4 separate regions of the Homo sapiens genome follow, and regions 2, 3 and 4 are each linked to region 1. Evidence: fine-mapped expression QTL. A gene starts in region 1. Each other region holds a variant in brackets. All regions are shown on one strand. Distances are from middle to middle. Region 1 holds the start of PLBD2 (phospholipase B domain containing 2). Region 2 has its middle 3.3 kb from the start of CFAP73. Region 3 holds the start of SDS (serine dehydratase). Region 4 overlaps PLBD2 (phospholipase B domain containing 2).

The links. PIP is the estimated chance that this variant, and not a neighbour inherited with it, causes the effect. A credible set is the group of variants that fine-mapping cannot tell apart.
Region 2: its variant is the best candidate, but not a certain one, in a credible set for the expression of PLBD2 in whole blood (INTERVAL, PIP 0.75).
Region 3: its variant is the best candidate, but not a certain one, in a credible set for the expression of PLBD2 in whole blood (TOPMed, PIP 0.60).
Region 4: its variant is the best candidate, but not a certain one, in a credible set for the expression of PLBD2 in blood mononuclear cells (TOPMed, PIP 0.85).

The regions. Positions count from the first base shown.
Region 1 is chr12:113,356,657-113,361,803 of GRCh38, reverse strand. It overlaps PLBD2 (phospholipase B domain containing 2), which reads right to left and starts at 3,217. Exons shown (of 12, transcript NM_173542.4): 1 at 2,914-3,217. The coding sequence starts at 3,203. It overlaps LOC105369989 (a long non-coding RNA gene), which reads left to right and starts at 2,294. Exons shown (of 3, transcript XR_945346.3): 1 at 2,294-2,474. RefSeq lists an enhancer at 1,959-2,458 and silencers at 2,794-2,853, 2,904-3,403.
Region 2 is chr12:113,143,802-113,148,948 of GRCh38, reverse strand. No RefSeq gene overlaps it. Among named protein-coding and RNA genes, the nearest start is that of CFAP73, 3.3 kb to the left of the region's middle. The variant G/T (reference allele first, on the strand shown) is at 2,891.
Region 3 is chr12:113,399,332-113,404,478 of GRCh38, reverse strand. SDS (serine dehydratase) reads left to right here and starts at 592. Exons shown (of 8, transcript NM_006843.3): 1 at 592-711; 2 at 4,769-4,923. The coding sequence starts at 4,771. RefSeq lists enhancers at 2,154-2,653, 2,654-3,155. The variant C/T (reference allele first, on the strand shown) is at 2,785.
Region 4 is chr12:113,378,585-113,383,731 of GRCh38, reverse strand. PLBD2 (phospholipase B domain containing 2) reads right to left here. Exons shown (of 12, transcript NM_173542.4): 6 at 2,890-2,987. Among named protein-coding and RNA genes, the nearest start is that of PLBD2, 23 kb to the right of the region's middle. RefSeq lists an enhancer at 2,863-3,388. The variant G/A (reference allele first, on the strand shown) is at 2,670.

The DNA.
Region 1 (5,147 bases):
TGGAGGATACAGCTTCCCCAGGACCAAGGCCAGAGCTAGACTGAGGCAGGCTCTGCTCCTAGTGACATCTCTGATCTCCAAGCACCAAATCATAAATGTTTCCAGGCTGTGTGGGGGTGTTGGCCCAAAGTCAAGATATGGCACAACTGAAAGAAGGTACCGAGCACAGTGGCTCACATCTGTAATCCCAACATTTGGGGATGCTAAGGTGAGAGGATCACTTGAGCCCAGGAGTTCAAGACCAGCCTGGGCAACATGACAAGACCCCTGTTTCTACAAAAAAAAAGAATTTAAAAATTAGCCAGGCATGGGGGTGCGTATCTATAGTCCCAGCTACTTGGGAGGCCGAGGTCGGAGGATTTCTTGAGCCTGGGAGTTCAAGGCTGCAGTGAGCCATGATCATACCACTGCACTCGAGCCTGGATAACACAGGGAGACCCTGTCTCAAAAAAAAAAAAAAAACAAAAAAAAAAAAACCTTTTTTAAAAAATAAAAAAGACGAAGGATTATGGTGTAGGGAGAATTTATCCTGATAATCCCAGGATCCCCAGTGGCAAAATCTGGGGATTTCACCAGGAAGGAGGAGGATCCTAATTCTGAGTGAACAGAGGCATCAAATCCCTGCCCCCACCCTCCGAAATAAGACACAGAGTCCCCCACAGATCAGAGATTCTGCTGATCAGGAGCCAGGACACCCCCTATGGCTTTCTTTCATCTGACCCTGAGTCCTCAAGCAGCTGTCTCTGAGGACCTCAGTTTCCTGCCTATAAAATGGGGCTCGCTTTATGGTTTTCCCTGCATCAGAGCCTCAAGGGCTGGCAAACTCAAAGGGAAAGGGGCATGTGAGCGTAAGAGGAGGGGATGAGAGAGGGTGCCGAAAACAAGCCAGAAAGTCCAAGATGGGCAGATCACCTGAAGTCAGGAGTTTGAGACCAGCCTGGCCAACATGGTGAAACCCCATCTCTACTAATAATACAAAAATTAGCCGGGCATGGTGGCACACACCTGTAATTCCAGCTACTTGGGAGGCTGAGACACGAGAATCGCTTGAACCCAGGGTGGGGAGGTTGCAGTGAGCCAATATCGTGCCCCTGCACTCCAGCTGGGCAACGGAGTGAAACTGTGTCTCAAAAAATAAAATACAAATAAAAATAAATAAACAGTGCTTTCTGTGACCCCAGTGAATTTCCATGACCCTTTTGGTCCTACCTTGATATGAGGGAACATGCTCAGAGAGGTGAAGGGATTTGCCCAAGGTCACACAGCAGAGGGGCTGAGCCTGGAAGAACTTTCCATCCAGCACAATCAAGGAAGCCTTCTCTCCACTTCCATGTTTACCATAGTCAAGAGCAACACAGCCCAGGAGGGGCCTCCAGAGGCCAAAGCCCCCTCCCCATGCTGGGCCTCGCTCCTGCCCCTCCTCGCCTGAACAGTTCTGTCATGTCCTCTTGATTCTGCTATGCAGGGCCAAAAACATGAGTGAGTCAGCAAAGAACGGGTCACCAGATCCAAGAGTCCCGGCAGCCCCCGAGGCCAGCCACAAAGCTTCAGTTCCCTCCACAGATGCCAGCTCACTCTGTGGCCTCCTCTCTCTGGGAGCCTTCCCAGATTTACCCCAACCAGTGCCCCTGTGTCTGTGCAAATATCTCCCCCAAATCTCACGTCTACTTGATGTACCCCCCAAGTGCCACCAGAATGGGGGTGTCCTCGGCATCCTGTGTCTCCCTAACACCTGCAGAAGCCAATGGATGCCAGTAAAATGGATAGGGGCTAAAGTGGGAGGAGGCCCTTTCTGCTGCAGGGGGCAGTGTGGTCTGAGCACAGACCACATCCTGGGCACATCCTAGTGCTAGGGTTCCCTAGCATCATCTGGACACTAGGATATGACGGATGCACCCCGGGTTCCCTAGGATCCCCCAGCACAGCCTGATCCAGCGTCTGGGCCCTGCTGACAAGGCTTTGAAGCTGATCCTTCCCACTCCCACTGACTCTGATTTCTCTTCTATCGCTGTCTGTGTTTCCCACTGAGTAGAGACAGCTGCTCAGCTGTGTCCCTAAGGCCAACCATCAGGGTAATGAATAAATGAATGGGCACAAGCCCTTGTACAGAACTTGCAGCACATGACCACCCAACTAGAGCACATCCTCAAAATCTGGGCCACAGATGGGGAAACGGGAGCCCAGACAGGCGGAGGAGTTAGGTGAGACTCACACATCAGAATGACAGCCTGGGTTCCAGCAATAAAGATGGTGAGCATGGCTGCCAAACACGGCATCCAGCCAAGGACTTCCCCTTGGACCAGGACACAGAAGACAAGGGAGGAGCAGAGCCCTAGCAGGATACTAAATGGGTCTATGTGACTTTAGGGACCCTCTGCTTTTGGACTAGCCTGGAACCCAGGTTCAGTCCTGCTGACCTGGCACTGGAAGGGAGGCAGGGTGCTGGCACCCACGAGCAAGCCACAGCCAAGCAGGTAAGAATTAGTCTCCTGCTGAGTTCTCATCACCCCTCAGGCCTGGGGACAGGGGGCTGGCCTCCATGGGGTGAGGAGGCAAAGTCTAGGGAAGGGAGCAGGTCCCCGTGAGGATAGAATTTACCCACCAGCCATGGACCTGATCCAGATGCAGGCACTGCGGCCTCGGTGGTAGGGAACTGGCTTCTTGGGGACAGAAGTACTGTCACCACTGGCTGAAGGCAAGGGACTGGCCCCATGAGGTGAGGGATGCCGCAGTAGCCAGCTCCCAAACAGGGTACTTGGCCCGCAGGGCGGTGCTGCAGCCTCGGGAGTAGCTGACCCCCAGAGAAACGGGCGTTCCCACCCGGCAAGAGGCCGGTCCCGGGAACAGGCGAGGTCCGGCGCCCACGCATCCCCCTCCCCCGATGGCCCCGCGTGGGGATAAGCCAACCCTTACCCAGTCTCGCGGATGGCGTTGGTGAGGTTGGCCCAGGCCACGGCGTCAGGGTGGCGTCCGTCCACCATAAGCAGCTGGCCCGCCGAGACGTCCAGGAGCACCGAGCGGCTGCGGGAGGCTGGAGGGACCTGCCCATCGCGCGCCCAGCGGCCCCCCGGCGCTGGGATCGCCCCCGCCAGGCCGCTCAGGAACGGCCCGACCAGCAGGGCCAGCACCAGGGCCAGCGCCAGCGCCCGCGTCAGCGCCCGGGCCAGGTGGCTGCCGGGGTAGCAGTACATCTGGCCCACCATGACCGCACAATGCTGCGCCCCGCAGCCCGGGTCACGTGACTGCGCTCTGCCATGGGCGGGGCCGAGGGCGGGCGGGGCCGGGCTTGGGCTGAGCCTTTCCGGGATGGGAGGGGCTGGCGCGAGGGGAGGCCTACGGGGCGGGACCCACCTTAAAGAGCCCGGCCGCCCCTTCCACCTACGCAAACCCGGTTTAGCACACTTCCCCAAGTTTTTTTTTTTTTTTTTTTTTGAGACAAGACAAAACCTCCATATGTCGCCCAGACTGGAGTGCAGTGACGCGATCTCGGCTCATTGCCACCTCCGCCTCCCGGGTTCAAGCGATTCTCCTGCCTCATCCTCCTGAGTAGGTGGGATTACAGGCGCGCACCACCACGCCCAGCTGATTTATGTAATTTCAGTACAGACGGGGTTTCGCCATGTTGGCCAGGCTGGTCTTGAACTCCTGACCTCAGGTGATCCGCCTGCCTCAGCCTCCCAAAGTGCTGGGATTACAGGGGTGAGCCACCGCGCCCGGCCAGATTTATTTAATGGTATTTGCCATTTATTTAATACAGTTATCTAATGCAGTCTTTATTCCAACTTTTCCCATTGTCCCTCAAATACCCTTTTTACATGTGTGTGGGAAAAAGCTGTCTAACTACTACTCAAAACCTAGATGCCGTCGGGCGCGGTGGCTCACGCCTGTAATCCCAACACTCCAGGAGGCCAGGGCGGGCGAGTTCAGGAGTTCAAGACCAGCCTGGGCAACATGGTGAAACCCCCGTCTCTACTAAAAATACAAAAAAGTAGCCGGACGCAGTGAGGCGCGCCTATAGTCCCAGCTACTCGGGAGACTGAGGTAGGAAAATCACCTGAGCCCGGAAGGTCGAGGCTGCAGAGAGTCGAGATTGCACCACTGCACTCCAGCCTGAGCAACCAGAATGAGACCTTGTCTCAAAAGAAAAAAAAAAAAAAAAAAACCTAGATGCAATAAAAGATTAATGCATTTGACTGTATAAATTTTTTAACTTTTTCATGTCAAAAAACTCAATAAGCAAAGTCAAAAGACATCTGACAGACCAGGAGAAACTATTTGCAACATATATCATATATATACATTACATATATATATGTATATATATCTCAACATATATCATATAATATATCAGGAACTCTTAAAATTTGAGAGGGAAGGCCAGGTGAGTGGTTCATGCCTGTAATCACAGCACTTTGGGTGGCCAAGGTGGGAGGAATGCTTGAGCCCAGGAGTTTGAGACCAGCCTAGGAAACCTGGCAAGACTCTGTCTCTATAAAATATAAAAATTAGCTGAGCTTGGTGGTGCACACCTGTAGTCCTGTTGTGGGAAACTGAGGAACGGAGAGACCAATATGAGAGAACAGGAGGATGTTTATTTCAACGTACGCACTGGCTCAGTGGATTCACATCCAAAAAGCTGAGCCTAGAACAAAGATATTGTGGGGTTTTTATAAGCAAGCTTAGAAAGGTAAAACAAAAGTAGTTAATCATATAGTGCATAACTTGTGGCCTTGCATAGCTGGTGGCCTTGTAGCTGCATCAAAAGTAAAACAAGAACTGGCTAAATAGAGAGGTTTGTAAAACATAGTCATGCTTAAGAGACCAAGGAAAGGAATAGCAATAAAATAATTTGTCTTTCTCTCTTTTTTTTCCTTCAACCTTGCTCTGGAGGCGGGCGGTGGGGTGGAGGGCGGGGTCTGGAGCCCAGTCCTCTGGCCTTGGCTTTTCGGACAGCGTTATCTTATAACTGTCCTTGAAGTGAGCTGCTAAGCAGAGGAAAACTTGTTCTTCTTCTTTTTTAACCCTTGCCTTGCCACATTCTGGGCCTTAGCTCTTACTTCTCTTGGAGTGAATATATGTAGTACTTATTATTATTATTATTTTAATTTCTGCCTCAGTCCCAGCTACTGGGAGGCCGAGGGGGGAGG
Region 2 (5,147 bases), 210 kb after region 1:
GCGTGAGCCACCACACCTGGCCAATAGTTTGGGCTTTACTGTGGGTTAGATGCTATGCTCAGCACTCTATAGTATCTAAATTAATCCCTAAGACAGCCCTGTGGGGGGTGGATGGTACTAGGGAAAAGTACCAAGAGTAATATAAAAAGTACCCTTGGGTTCTTCAATTCAAAGCAACAAACACTAGCATCTTGTCCTCCCTGCTTCCGGTCATTTTATTTTCCATTTTAAATAATTTATTTTCCATTCAAAGAAATGTATTTTCTTAATGTAGAGCAATGCTGTTTCAAAAACCTATAGTTCCTTGTAATCCTACATTGCTTAAAAAACTCCTAAGGATTTCGTTAGAGCATGTTTTAAAAAACAGAACTAGGGCCGGGTGCGGTGGCTGATGCCTGTAATCTCAGCACTCTGGGAGGCCAAGGTGGGAGGCTTGTTTGAGCCCAGGAGTTCCAGCCCAGCCTGTGTAACACAGAGAGACCCCATCTCTACAAAAAATAATAAGATTAGCTGGGGATAGTGGCATGTGTCTATAGTTCCAGCTACTCGGGAAGCTGAGGCAGGAGGATCACTTGAGCCCAGGAGGTTGAGGTTGCAGTGAGCTATGATCACTCCACTGCACTCCAGCGTGGGCAACAGAGCAAGACCCTGTCTCAATCAATCAATCAATCAATATCTAAGAAATTAAAAAGAACTAAAATAATGTACATTTTACCTTTGAGCATTTTTAAAAATTAAATTGGACATGCTGTCTTTCTGCACAAATTGATGTGAAGTTACAATAAGATATGATCTCATTTTTTCATTCTTTTTTTTTTGAGATGGAGTCTTGCTCTGTGACCTAGGCTGGAGTGCAGTGGCACGATCTCCTCTCACTGCAACCTCTGCCTCCTGGGTTCAAGCGAGTCTCCTGCCTCAGCCTCTGGAGTAGCTGAGATTGAAGGCGCGCGCCACCGCATCTGGCTAGTTTTTTGTATTTTTAGTAGAGATGGGTTTTTGCCATGTTGGCCAGGCTGGTCATGAACTCCTGACTTCAGGCGATCTGCCCGCCTCAGCCTCCCAAAGTCCTGGGATTACAGGCGTGAGCCACCTTGCCTGGCTTCATTTTTTTCTTAATTTTTTAAAAGATAAAGGTATCTTTTACAAAAAGTAAAAGTCACTTTTTCCATATACCATTCTATGGATTTTGGCAAATGCATAAAGTCATGTAATCACCACCACAATCAACATACAAAACATTTCCATCACCCCAAAAAGCCCTTGTGCCCCTTTATAATCAACCCTTCCCTCCACACCAGCCTCTGGCAACTTCTACATATTCTTTGTCCTTCGAGTTTTACCTTTTGCAGGATATCATACATGAAATCACGGTATACACTTTGTAGCCCTTTGAGTCTGTCTTCTTTCACTTAGTAATATTCATTTGAGATTCATTCATATTGATATGTGTATCAGTAGCTCATTCTTTTTCATTGCCGGGTACATTATATTATGAATACTATAGTTTGTTGATTCATTCCCCAGATGAAAGACAGGTGAGTTGCTTCCAGTTCTGGGCACTTGCAAATACAGGCTGTATTCATGTGCAGGTTTTTGTGCAAACATAAGTTTTCATTTCACTTGTGTAAATATGTCAGAGTGGTATTGCTGTGTCGTATGGTAAGTGTATGTTTAACTGTATAAAAAACTGCAAGCTGTTATTCAAGGTGGCTGTACTATTTTTATATTCACACTAGCAATGTACAAGAGTTCTAGTTGCTCCATTAGGAGAGTTCTAGTTGCTCCATATCCTCACCAGCAGTTGGTATTGTCAGTTTTTTAAAAAGTCATTTTATGGCCGGGTGTGGTGGCTCATGCCTGTATTCCCAGCACTTTGGGAGGCTGAAGCAGGTGGATCACCTGAGGTCACCAAGACCAGCCTGAGCAACATGGTGAAACCCAGTTTCTACTAAAAATACAAAAATCAGCTGGGCATGGGGGCATGTGCCTGTAATCCCAGCTACTCAGGAGGCTGAGGCAGGAGAATCGCTTGAACCTGGGAGGCAGAGGTTGCAGTGAGCTGAGATTGCACCACTGCACTCCAGCCTGGGTGATAAGAGTGAGACTCTGTCTCAAAAAAAAAAAAAGGTCATTTTAATAGTTGTATTGTAGTATAGATTATGGTTTAATTTTTTTTTTTTTTTTTTGAGACAAGGTCTGGCTCTACCACAAGGCTGGAATGCAGTGGCATGATCTTGGCTCACTGCAACCTCTACCTCCCAGACTCAAGCCATCCTCCCACCTCAGCCTCCCAAGAAACTGGGACCTCAGTCAGGTGCCACCACACCCAGCTAATTTTTGTATTTTTTGTAGGTGGGGTTTCACCATGTTGTCCAGGCTGGTCTTGAACTTGTGTGCTCAAGCTATCCGCCTGCCTCTGCCTCCCAAACTGCTGAGATTATAGGCGTTAGCCACCACACCCGGCCTAGATTACATTTTAATTTTTGAGATAACTGTAGATTTACATGCAGTTTAAGGACCAATACAGAGAGATCCCATATCCCTTCCACCCAGTTTTCTCCAGTGGTAACATCTTGCGTAACTATAGTACAATATCACAATCAGAAAGTTGGCATTGATACAACCCACTGAACTCACTCAGATTTCACCATTCTAACATGCATTCATGGGTATGTGTGTGTGTGTGTATATTTAGTTCTATGCAGCCTTGCCTCAGGTATATTTATGTGACAACCACTATAGTCAAAATACAGAACAGTTCATCACAAGGTTCACTTAGAGGCATACTGGTCTCCTGCTTCTCCCCTCCCTAAGCCCTGACAACCATTCCTCTGTTCTTCATCTGTATAATTTTGACATGTCAAGGATGTTAGAGAAATGGAATTGGCCA[G/T]CCACGGTGGCCACGCCTGTAATTCCAACACTTTGAGAGGCCGAGGCAGGAGGATCGTTTGACTCCAGGAGTTTGACACTAGCCTGGGCAACATGATGCAATCCTGTCTCTACAAAAAAATACAAAAGTTATCCAGGCGTGGTGGCGCATGCCTGTAGTCTCAGCTACTCGGTAGGTTGAAGTGGGAGGATCACTTGATCCTGGGAGACAGAGTCTGCAGTGAGCCATGATCCCGCCAGTGCACTCTAGCCTGTGTGACAGAGCAAGACCCTGTCTCAAAAGGAAGGAGGGGGAGGGGGGAGCAGGGGTGGGGGAAGGGAGGGGAGGGGAGAGAAAGGGAATCTTTCAGTATGTAACCTTCTGAGATTGGCTTTTTTCACTACGCGTAATTCTCTTGAGATCCATCCTGGTTGTTGTATGTATCGATAGTTTGTTCCTTTGGATTGCTGAGCAGCATGCCATGGTATGGGTGTACCACAGTTTGTTTAACCATTCAGGCTGAAGGACATTTGGGTCATTTCCAGTTTTTAAGAATAAAGCTATTAAGAGTAAAGCTGGGTCAGGTGCAGTGGCTCATGCCTGTAATCTTGGCACTTTGGTAGGCTGAAGCAGGAGGATCTCTTGAACCCAGGAGTTCAAAGTCAGTCTGGATAACATAGAGAGACCCTGTCTCTACAAAAAAAAAAAAGAAAAGAAAAATCAGCTGGGTTTGGTGGCACAGGCCTGTGGTCCTAGCTACTTGGGAGACTGAGGCAGGAGCCTGTGAGGTCAAGGCTGCAGTGAGCTGTGATCACATCACTGCACTGCAGCCTGGGCGACAGAGTGAGACCATGTCTCCAAAATATATACATACATATATAAAATATATATACATATAAATAAATTATATATATAAAGAATATATATATATGCCATGAAGATTCATGTGCTACTTTTTGTGTGAGCCTATGCCTTTATTTCTTTGGGATAAATGCCCAAGAGTGAAATTGTTGGGCTGTATGGTAAGTGACATTTCGTTTTTAAAGAAGCTGCCAGCCGGTCATGGTGGCTCACGCTGTTCTCCCAGCCACCCAGGCTGCAACAGAGTGAGCTGAGCACTTCTCCCAGCACTTTGGGAGGCTGAGGCGGACAGATCACCTAAGGTCAGGAGGAGTTCGAGGCCAGCCTGGCCAACATGGTGAAACTCCATCTCTACTAAAAATACAAAAATTAACCTGGTATGGTGGTGCACACCTGCAATCCCAGCTACTCTACTTGGGAGACTGAGGCAGAAGAATTGCTTGAATCCAGGAGGCAGAAGTTGCAGTGAGCTGAGATCGCACCACTGCACTCCAGCCTGGGGGACAGAGTGAGACTCCATCTCAAAAAAAAAAAAATTAAATTAAAAAATTTAAAAAAACCTCTCATATTCTTTTGCATAGGGGCTGCACATTTTACATTTCCACCAGCAAAAAATGAATGATCCAGTGTCTCTGTATCTTTGCTGTGATCACTATTTTTTTATTTCAGCCATTCTGATAGGCATGTAGTGATAGCACATTGTGTTTTTATTTTGCATTTCTTTAAAGGCTAATGAAGTTGAACATCTTTTCATGTGCTTGTTTGCCATCTGTATATCCTCCTCAGTAAAATATATGTTCAGTTCAGTGAAACGCCTCTTGCCTATGTCTTAACTGGATTGTTTTTAACTGTAGAGTTTTATTTATTTATTTATTTATTTATTTTAGAGCCAGAGTCTCACTCTGTCGCCCAGGCTAAAGGGCTTAAGCAATCCTCCCACCTCAGCCTTCTCAGTAGCTGTGACTACAGGTGTGCACCACCGTGCTAGGCTAAGTTTAAAAAATTTTTTTGTAGAGATGGGGTCTTACTACATTGCCCAGGCTGGTCCTGATCTCCTGGCCTCAGGAGAGCCTCCTACCTCGGCCTCCTCCTACCTCGGTCCCCCAGAGTGTTGGGATTACAGGCATTAGAGATGGGGTTTCACCATGTTGGCCAGACTGCTCTCAAACTCCTGACCTCAGGTGATCCGCCTGCCTTGGCCTCCAAAAGTGCTGGGATTACAGGCATGAGCCACCGTGTGCGGCCGTAATTATTAAAATTTCTTGTAGAGATGAGGTCTTGCTATGTTGCTTAGGCTGGTCTCAAACTCCTGGGCTCAAGTGATTCTCCCGCCTCAGCCTCTCAAAGTGTTGAGATTACAGGCGTGAGCCACCACACCAGCAATTTCTATTCTTATTTTTATTTTTATTTTTTTTGA
Region 3 (5,147 bases), 43 kb before region 1:
AGATCTAGTCTCACTGTAACCTCTGCCTCCCAGGTTCAAGCAATTCTTGTGCCTCAGCCTCCTGAGTAGCTAGGATTACAGGCACGTGCCACCACACCCGGCTGATTTTTGTATTTTTAGTAGAGACGGGATTTCACCATGTTGGCCAGGCTGGTTTCGAATTCCTGACCTCAGGTGATCCACCCGCCTCGGCCTCCCAAAATGCGGAGCCAATATTTAACCTTTCATCTGAAGCTATCTGCTTAGGAACTAAAGGAAAGGCAGTTTCTTACATGACTCAGCTTTTAGCTTAATTCTTTTTCTTTTGGCATAGTGAGTTGGGGGTCCCAATTTTTTATTTTCCTTTCACGAAACTGAGGACAGAAAGGGGAAGTGGAAAGAGGGAGGAGGAGTGGGTTGTGGGAAAGGCAGGAGGAAGCTGCCAAAGAAGAAAGCTTGGCCAGATTCCACCTCCCTTCTGACAGCCTCAGTGGCCTCAAGCCAGGGGGGTGGGTCCTGGCAGGAGGGAGGGGGGGGTGTAGCCAGCCCCAGGGCCCCATTGGCTGCCCAGAGGTGCCAGAGGAATAAAGCCCAGGACCAAGTAGCCCCTGGGACCATTCAGAAGACTGTCCACCCGTCCTCAGCCCCCTCTCTTCGTGGGCTATCTACTCAGTTGATCCCTCCCTCGCTGGCTTGGCTCTGACTCCTGCTCAGACCCATCACCTTTGCCGGGTAAGTGGCCCCATCCTCAGTCCCACCTCAGGACTGGAGTGTCCCGGGCTAGCCTGTGGTTTCCCAGGGGAAGAGGGAGACATAGAAAGAGTCTGTCAAGGCTGGGCATGGTGGCTGATGCCTGTAATCCCAACACTTTGGAAGGCTGAGGTGGGAGGGTTGCTTGAGGCCACAAGTTCAAGACTGAGCTGGGCAACAGAGTGAGACCCCCCCCAATCTCTACAAAAAAAATTTTTTTTTTTTAAGACAGAGGTCTCACTCTGTCACCCAGGCTGAAGTGCAATGGCACAATCTGGGCTCACTGCAACCTCCACCTCCTGGGTTCAAGCGATTCTCCTGCCTCAGCCTCCCGAGTAGCTTGGACTACAGGCGTGTGCCACCACGCCCGGCTAATTTTTGTATTTTTAGTAGAGATGGGGTTTCACCATGTTGGCCAGGCTGGTCTCGAACTCCTGACCTAAAAAAAGAATTTAATTAGTATAGTGTGGTGGTGCACACCTGTAGTCCCAGCTACTGGGAAGGCTGAGTTGGGAGGATCGCTGGAGCCCAAGAGGTCGAGTCTGCAGTGAGCAATTATTGCGCCCCTGCACTCCAGCCTGGGTGACACAGCAAGACCTTGTCTCAAATTTTTAAAAAACAGCCATTTGGGCCTAAACACTGAGTTTGTGTCCAGTTCTGTGCCTCAGCTTCCACATCTGTAGAATGGGGATGAGCATAGCGCCTTCCTCCTCAGGTGGTTGTGACGGTGAAAGGATGACCTGCACTTAAGGTGTCCAGCCCAGATTTCATAATAGTTCATATCGACTGAGCACTTACTGTGAACCAAGTGAAAGGGAAGGTGGCTTCCGACTGCCGGAGTGGGCAGACAGCGGCTTCAGGGCTCCCTCCCTCCTCCTCCCCGGGCACAACCTCTTCTGAAGTCTTGCGATCCTTGGGGCAGGGATCCTTGGGGCAGGCTGGATGCAGTTAATGGATGCTCACTTCACGGAAAGCCGCGGCAGAGGGAGCCCTGTCCTTTTACCTGAAGGCATCCCATGGCACCGCCTGGGACAAACGGCGAGAGAGGCGCCCCAAACCCACCTGAAAAGGGTCTTCGTGGCCGGCTCCTCTGACTCCCACCCCGATTGTCCCTGAGGCCAGGCCTTGGTGACCTACACCGGCCTTTAATGTCAAGTCAGTCGGTGTGGTGGCTCACGCCTGTAATCCCAGCACTTTGGGAGGCCAAGGCAGGCAGATGACTTGAGGTCAGGAGTTCGAGACCAGCCTGCCCAATATGGTGAAACCTTGTCTCCACTAAAAATGCAAAAATTATTCGGGCGTGGTGGTGCACGTCTGTGATCCCAGCTACTTGGGAGGCTGAGGCAGGAAAATCGCTTGAACCCAGAAGGCGGAGGTTGCAGTGAGCCGAGATCATGCCGCTGCACTCCAGCCTGGGTGACAGAGGGAGGTTCTCTAAAAATAACTAAATAAAAACCGGGATCCCATTGTTTGGGGATTAACCTCCAGGAGCTGAAAGTTCATGCCGATTTGGGGATGTCCTGTTTTGAAGTTTGCCCCAGTCTCTGATTTTTATTCGAGAGATCCAGCGGAGAGAGGGTGTCTGTTCAAGTTCCCCTCCCAGGCCCCGAATGTCAGTTAATTCAGATAGACAAGGGGTGACCTATTTAGGGGATGCTAAGTCTGGCGGGGCAGTTGGAATCCCCACCCCTCATTCTCCCTCTGACCAAGGGATGTCTGGCTCATTCTGGGAGCGGGGGATGGATGTCCAAGCTAGGAGTGCCCAGGACAGGGGGCTGGACAAGGTGGCATTGGAGATGGGTCTCTGGCTAGCCACCCTTGCCTGGCCTTCTGGGATGGTGGAGGGAGGGGGAACCAGAGAGCCCCTTGGCCATCGTCAGCTGATCTCTTCTGGCCCGGCCCAAGTTGAGGAGAATCAAATCCTCCCTGAGACTCTCAGCAGAAGGCAGGGGAGATGGGAAGGCTGGGTGGGTGGACGTGGCTGTGGCTAGACCCCGGGCCACCCCAGCTGCTTCATCCCCCAGAGCCCATCCAGAAGCAGGAGCCTGAGCCACA[C/T]CCATGGGTCGCAGAGAGAGCCTGAGCCCTGGAGCCAGCTGCCCGAGTTCAAATCCTGCCTCCCTGCCTCACTCACAGCGTGACTTTGGGCAAATTATGTTAATATTCCCCTTCCTGTTGCTGTGTACCAAACTACCCCAAAATGTGACTTAAAACAACAGCAAGCCAGGTGCTGTGGCTCATGCCTGTAATCCCAGCAGTTTGGGAGGCTGAGGTGGGCAGAACGCTTGAGGCCAGGAGTTGGAGACCAGCCTGGCCAACATAGCAAAACCCCATCTCTACTGGAATGAATGAATGAATGAATGAATGAATGAATGAATAAAATTTAAAAGCTGTGATTAGTCACTGCTATAATAATTATGACAAAATTAATAATTATGAAAGAGCTTTTCCTAACTGAATATTGGGCTTCCCAAAAGTTAGGTTATTTTGTTTTTTTTTAAATAAATATTTATTGAACATCTACTATGAGTCAGGCATTTTGCTGGGTCCTGGGATCGTCCATTTAAGCCAAGATACTTGGAACTGCATGTCAGAAGAGCCAGCTGCCAGGTTGTTTTTGTTTGTTTGTTTGTTTGTTTGAGACAGAGTCTCGATCTGTAGACGAGGCTGGAGTGCAGTGGCGCGATCTCGGCTCACTACAAGCTCCGCCTCCCGGGTTCACGCCATTCTCCTGCCTCAGCCTCCCAAGTAGCTTGTATTTTTAGTAGAGACGGGGTTTCACCATGTTAGCCAGGATGGTCTCGATCTCCTGACCTCGTGATCCGCCCGCTTCGGCCTCCCAAAGTGCTGGGATTACAGGTGTGAGTCACCGCGCCCAGCCCAGGTTTTTTTTAAATGTATGCATTTAAGTAAGTAATAGAGGCACATGGTAAAACATCAAACTGTGCAAAAGGTGGGTGCTATGATCCCGAGGGCCAGCTCTCCTCAGAGGCCCCACCCTGGCCAGCCTGTCATGCATGTTTCCTGAAATGCTCTGTGCACATGGAAACATGTGGAACAAAACAAAAAAAAATTCAAATAAAAAAATTAAAAAAATATATAAAAGAAACATGTGGACTATATGTGTGTGTGGATGGATTGTGCGTGTGTGTGGATGGATTGTGTGTGGGAGTGGATCGTGTGTGTGTGGATGGAGTATGTGTGTGTGGATGGATTATCTGTGTGTGTGGGTGTCCCTGAATTTTTCACATAGATAGATAGACTATTCTTTTTTTTTTTTGAGACACAGTCTCACTCTGTTGCCCAGGCTGGAGTGCAGTGGCTCGATCTTGGCCCATTACAACCTCCACCTCCTCGGTTCAAGTGATGCTCCTCCCTCAGCCTCCTGAGTAGCTGAGATTACAGGTGCCTGCCACCATGCCTGGCTAATTCTCTTTCTTCTTCTTTTTTTTTTTTTTCTCAAGACAGAGTCTTGCTCTGTCACCCAGGCAGGAGTGCAATGGCGCGATCTCGCTCACTGCAACCTCCGCCTCCTGGGTTCAAGTGATTCTCCTGCCTCAGCCTCCTAAGTAGCTGGGGTTACAGGCGTGCGCCACCATGCCCAGCTAATTTTTTGTATTTTTAGTAGAGACGGGGTTTCACCATGTTGGCCAGGCTGGTCTCGAACTTCTGACCTTGTGATCCACCAGCCTTGGCCTCCCAAAGTGCTGGTATTACATGCATAAGCCACTGTGCCCGGCCTCACCTCATGCATTTTGAAAGCTCCAAGGTTTGAGTGTTCTCTCTTCAGCCTCCCAGCAAATGTGTGAGAGGTCAGGAGTGGAGGGTGATCCCTGATAGAGCTGAGGCCAAGGCGTGATTACCTGTCTGATGTCACATGGTGAGTAGGTGGCCCACTTGCGATTAGAGCCCAGGTCTCCAGGATGCTCTCTCGTCTGAGGCCTTGCTTGGCTTGCTGGGAAGCGAAGGAAGGGATCACTCTGGCAGTGCTGGCACCGGGGCTAGCTCTCCTAACCCTCTGGGTTTCCTTCCTTTCTCCCAGGAATGATGTCTGGAGAACCCCTGCACGTGAAGACCCCCATCCGTGACAGCATGGCCCTGTCCAAAATGGCCGGCACCAGCGTCTACCTCAAGATGGACAGTGCCCAGCCCTCCGGCTCCTTCAAGATCCGGGGCATTGGGCACTTCTGCAAGAGGGTACGGGACCGGGTCAGCATTATCTGGGCAGGGGTGGCAGGTCCTCCTTCCTCAACAGGGCAGGGCCAGTGCTGTGTGAAATTAAAGGCGTTGTAGGATAAGCCTACTGACTCCCCGCAAGGACTGAGCGTCCACCATTAGGGCTTCCTCTGTTTGAGGGGTGCCCTTCCAGGAGGGTTCCTTGGGACTGATCCCAGAGCCATCAGTCGCCTATTTTCCTCCAC
Region 4 (5,147 bases), 22 kb before region 1:
ACTTACTTAATCTGCCGGGCATGGTGGCTCACACTTTGGGAGGCCAAGGTAGGTGGATCACCTGAGGTCAGGAGTTCCAGACCAGCCTGGCCAACATGGTAAAACCCTGTCTCTACTAAAAATACAAAAATTAGCCAGGTGTGGTGGCATACACCTGTAATCCCAGCTACTGGAGAGGCTGAGGCAGGAGAATGACTTGAACCCAGGAGACAGAGGTTGCAGTGAGCCCAGATCATGCCACTGCACTTCAGCCTGGGTAACAAAAGAAGAAATAAATAAAAATAAAAACTCATATCCAGTTGAGGCACGTGTTCCCCACCAGTTCCTTGGACAAGCACGCAGGAGGATTTGGGATCATGCATCTAGCTTTGCCCTGGTGAACAGCCCCTGAGAGGCCCAAAGAGCCGCTCCCATGAACCCACTCCCTCACCAAGCTGGGCAACCTCCCATTCCCACCCCTTTCCCACAGTTCTGCAGGAAAAGTTGCACGGCCTGAGGCTGTCAGCCTGGCAGATGCAGCAGTCAGAGGACTAGGAGGCCTTACAACAGGAGAGGCCCTCAGTCTCCCTCCAGCCTTGGGGCATGCAGGATGCCCACCGCTGCCTCCGATTGCCTCCTCTCCCTTCTCCATTTCCTGCTGGAACCCTTGGCTGCCTTCAGCATATTTGAAAAGTAAAGCTTAGTTCTTGTGAGTTAAAAACCAAACCAAACAAAACTCATGTAATCCCAGCTATTCGGAGGCTGAGGCATGAGAATCACTTGAACCCTGGAAGCGAAGGTTGCAGTGAGCTGAGATCGTGCCACTGCACTCCAGCCTGGGCAACAGAGAGAGAGCCTATCTAAAAAAAAAAAAAAAAAAAAAAACACACACACACACACACACACACACACACACAAAAAACCACCACCACCACCACCCCCACCAAAAAGCTGAGAACAGCTAAAAGATAGCTGTATCCATAAATGTGATTTTTTCTTTTTTCTCTTTAAAGAGGAAAAAAAAGGCTGGACACAGTGGCTCAGCACTTTGGGAGGCCAAGGGGGTCAGATTGCTTGAGCCCAGGAGGTCAAGACCAGCCTGGGTAACATGGCAAAACCTGTCTCTACAAAAAATAAAAAAATTAGCCAGGCATGGTGGCAGGCGCCTATAGTTCCAGTTACTTGGGAGGCTGAGATGGGAGGATCGCTTGAGGCTGAGGTGATAGAGGCTGCAGTGAGCTGTGATCATGCCACTGCACTCAGGCCTGCATGACAGTGTGAGATCCTATCTCTGAAAAAAAAAAATCCTGAAATTTGGTATTTCTTTCCACTGTTAACGTGACACACCACAGTGGTATTAGTAGTCACTGGGACGGTCACTGTCAGAAATCACAGATGTTTTTCCATCAGATTACAAGGCTGTACATACCTTAAAGTATCATTCATGCACCTTGCTTCTTCTAACTTATGGTATTTATCACACCTGCTTCTGGATCTTATTATTCAGTGTGTTAATAAAGCAGCACATATATACTAAAAGTTTACTTATATTTTGATAACCATATTTCACTATAACTGGTTTCCTCCATAATCCTATACATTTTGGTTTATGTGTCTAAAAACACTAATTTGCCAGGCACAGTGGCTCACACCTATAATCCCAGCACTTTCGGAAGCTGAGGTAGGAGGATCCCTTCAACCCAGGAGTTCGAGACTGGCCTGGGAAATATAGTGAGACCTCATTTCTACAAGAAATTTAAAAATTAGCTGAGCATGGTGGCATGTGCCTGTAGTCCCAGCTACTCAGGAGGCTGAGGCAGGAGGATCGCCTGAACCCAGGAGGTGGGAGGTTGCAGTGAGCCACGATCACACCACTGCATTCCAACCTGAGTGACAGAGAGAGACCCTATCTCTATGAAAAAAAATAAATAAATAATAAAAGTTAAAACACTATTCTGAGAAGAGGGCCAACAGCCTCCTGGACTGCCCAAGGTGTTTATGGCACAAAAACAGTTAGGGACCCTGATGGAAGGGAAGTTTCCTGCCCAGACCCTTTCCTGGTAACCAGGTGGAACCATTTCACGTGTCCCTCCCCAGCTGCCTCAGTCCCCTTCCCCACCTGGGCCACAGCATGGGGGTTCCCTCACCCACCGCCTGGCCCTCTCTTGCCTCGTTCCACACTCAGAAAAAAGCAAGGATCAGACAAGAAGAAGAGTCCCCACCCCTCCCGTCCCCGCAGGGAGCTGGCGTTCTCTGCGCTAAGGGTGTTTTTTAGAGTGATGTTTTTTCTCCTCTGTCTCGTTGCCCTGGAGATCAAAGGGTTCACTTTCTCAGCGAGGGGTGCCAGGGACAGATTTCTAAACAAGTCTGGACCGCAGCCAGGAAAAAAGATGAAAACAACACACTGTAAACAGCCTCTATTCAGCAAACCTGGTCAGGTCAGAGGGGCTCTGAGGAAAGCAAGAGGGAGGCAGGAGGAGAGGGAAGCGGTGGGGATGTGGGGGGGGCGGGGGCACAGTTATCCTGAATACATAAAAACAAGTGAGGTCACTGAGGTCAGGGATAGTCCCAAACATCCCCAAGTCCAGCCTTTCCTGACAACCAGGGTTACATGCAGAGTCCCAGGCCATCTGCAGGTTTTGGAGGCCCTGTGCGGGGCCTGGGGGTCTATGTTTAAACACGCCCTTGTG[G/A]TGGTCCAAGTCCCCAGAGCAGGGGAAGGGCGAGTCTGGGCTCTGAATGGCAGGTGGGGCAGCGTCCACCTCATCCTCCACTGCACCCCTGGCTCCTACATGGCACCCAGCACTGGGCTGCAGCCTGGTCCCCACTTGCCGCAGGAATCAATCCTGCCAGCTCAGAGCCGCCGTGTGACAAACACCCCAGGAACAGAGGAGACATGAGAAAGGGACTCACCAGCCCACTGCCCAGGATGTAGAAGTCGTCGCAGGAGAAGATGGTGCCGGGGTAGGAGGAGAAGACCAGCTTGTTGCCGGGAACCAGCGGGTAGTCCCCTGTGCAGGCAGAGCGAGCCAGGGATGCTGGTCAGACAGGCACAGGTGGAGGCCCCTGCACCCTACCTAACAAGACACAGGCACAGGGGCACAGGCAGGCCTCCGAGGAAGCCCCCACTGTGTCCTTTTTGTCATTTAGCAAATGAGGTCATTGGGCATATAAAAGTGCATATACGTGCAAGTAAAAATAAAAGCTAGCAGCAAAACTTATATAGTTGGCCCTCCATGTCCGTGGGTTCCACATCCTTGGATTCAATCGACTGGGGACCAAAAATACTAGGAAAAAAACATGATTAAAAAGAAACAACACAGCTGGGTGCAGTGGCTCACACCTGTAATCCCTGCACTTTGGGAGGCCAAGGCAGGCGGATCACGAGGTCAGGAGACCAAGACCATCCTGGCTAACACGGTGAAACCCGTCTCTACTAAAAATACAAAAAATGAGCCAGGCGTGGTGGCGTGCGCCTATAGTCCCAGCTACTTGGGAGGCTGGGTCAGGAGAATGGCGTGAACCCGGGAGGCAGAGCTTGCAGCGAGCCGAGATCGCGCCACTGCACTCCAGCCTGGGCGACAGAGTGAGACTCCATCTAAAAAAAATAAATAAATAAATAAATAAAAGAAATAACACTAAAAGATAAAACAAATTTTAAAAATACAGTATAACAACTATTAATGTAGCATTGTATTAGGTCTTACAAGTAATCTAGAGATGATTATAGGATATGGGAGGATATGTATATGTTATAGGTAAACAGTCAGCCGTATTATAGAAGAGACCTGAGCTTCCACAGGGGCTCCTGGAGTCAACTCCCTCCCCAACACCAAGGGACAACTCTGTGTGTGCGTGGGTATATGTGTATGTGTTAAATATATATACTCAGATAGATAGACAAACAGATAAATATTTTGTTCACTGGACATTTTTTTTTTTTGAGACAGAGTTTCGCTCTTTTTGCCCAGGCTGGAGTGCAATGGGGCGATCTCAGCTCACTGCAACCTCCACCTCCCAGTTGTAAGCGCTTCTCCTGCCTCAGCCTCCCGAGTAGCTGGGATTACAGGCCCACCCCCGGCAGGTACCCTCACCCCTGCCCTAGAACTCCTTCTACCTGAAACCCATCCCTTGACAAGTGCTAGTCTGGTTTTATGCACTGTCTGCAGCAGGGCTACTGTGACCTCACGCTTATGCTGGAGGCTCATTACCCCTGTGATCTTGTAAATTGACTCCTTATACCCGCCCTGCATGGGGGCAGAGAATTATCATCTGCACTTTGCAGATAAGGCAATCTGAGACTCAGAAAGGCTAAGTAACTTAGCAGAGGCCAAACAGTTAAATGGCTGAGCAGGGATTCTACCCAGACCTCTTCCCTACAGTGCTCCAGAGTTCTGGGTGTAGCTCTCTGAATTATCCTTTGTCTTTTTTTTTTTTTTTTTTTTTTTGAGACAGAGTCTTGCTCTGTTGCCCAGGCTAGAGTGCAGTGGGGGGATCTCGGCTCACTGCAACCTCTGCCTCCCAGGTTCAAGTGATTCTCTTGTCTCAGCCTCCCGAGTAACTGCAATTACAGGCATTTACCACCATGTCTAGCTAATTTTTGTATTTTTAGTAGAGACATGGTTTTACCACATTGGCCAGGCTGGTCTCGAACTCTGACCTCAAGTGATCCACCAGCCTCGGCCTCCCAAAGTGCTAGAATTATAGGCATGAGCCACCGCGTCTGGCCTGAATTATCTCTTCCACATTAAGTCTTTGCACTTTAAAACAAAGGGACCAGTAGGCCGGGCACAGTGGCTCACGCCTGTAATCCCAGCACTTTGGAAGGCCAAGGTCAGGAGGCCAGGAGTTTGAGACCAGCCTTACCAACATGGTGAAACCCCATCTCTACTAAAAATACAAAATTAGCCAGGTTGGGGGTGCATGCCCGTAGTCCCAGCTACTCAGGAGGCTGAAGTGGGAGAATTGCTTGAACCTGGGAGGCGGAGGTTGAAGTGAGCCGAGATTGTGCCACTGCACTCCAGCCTGGGCAACAGAGTGAGACTCTGTCTCAAAGAAAAAAAAAAAAAAAAGGAAAGGAAAAAGGCACAGTGGGACCCAGCGCAGAGGCTCACACCTGAAATCCCAGTGCTTTGGGAGGCTGAGGCAGGAGGATCACCTGAGGCTAGAAG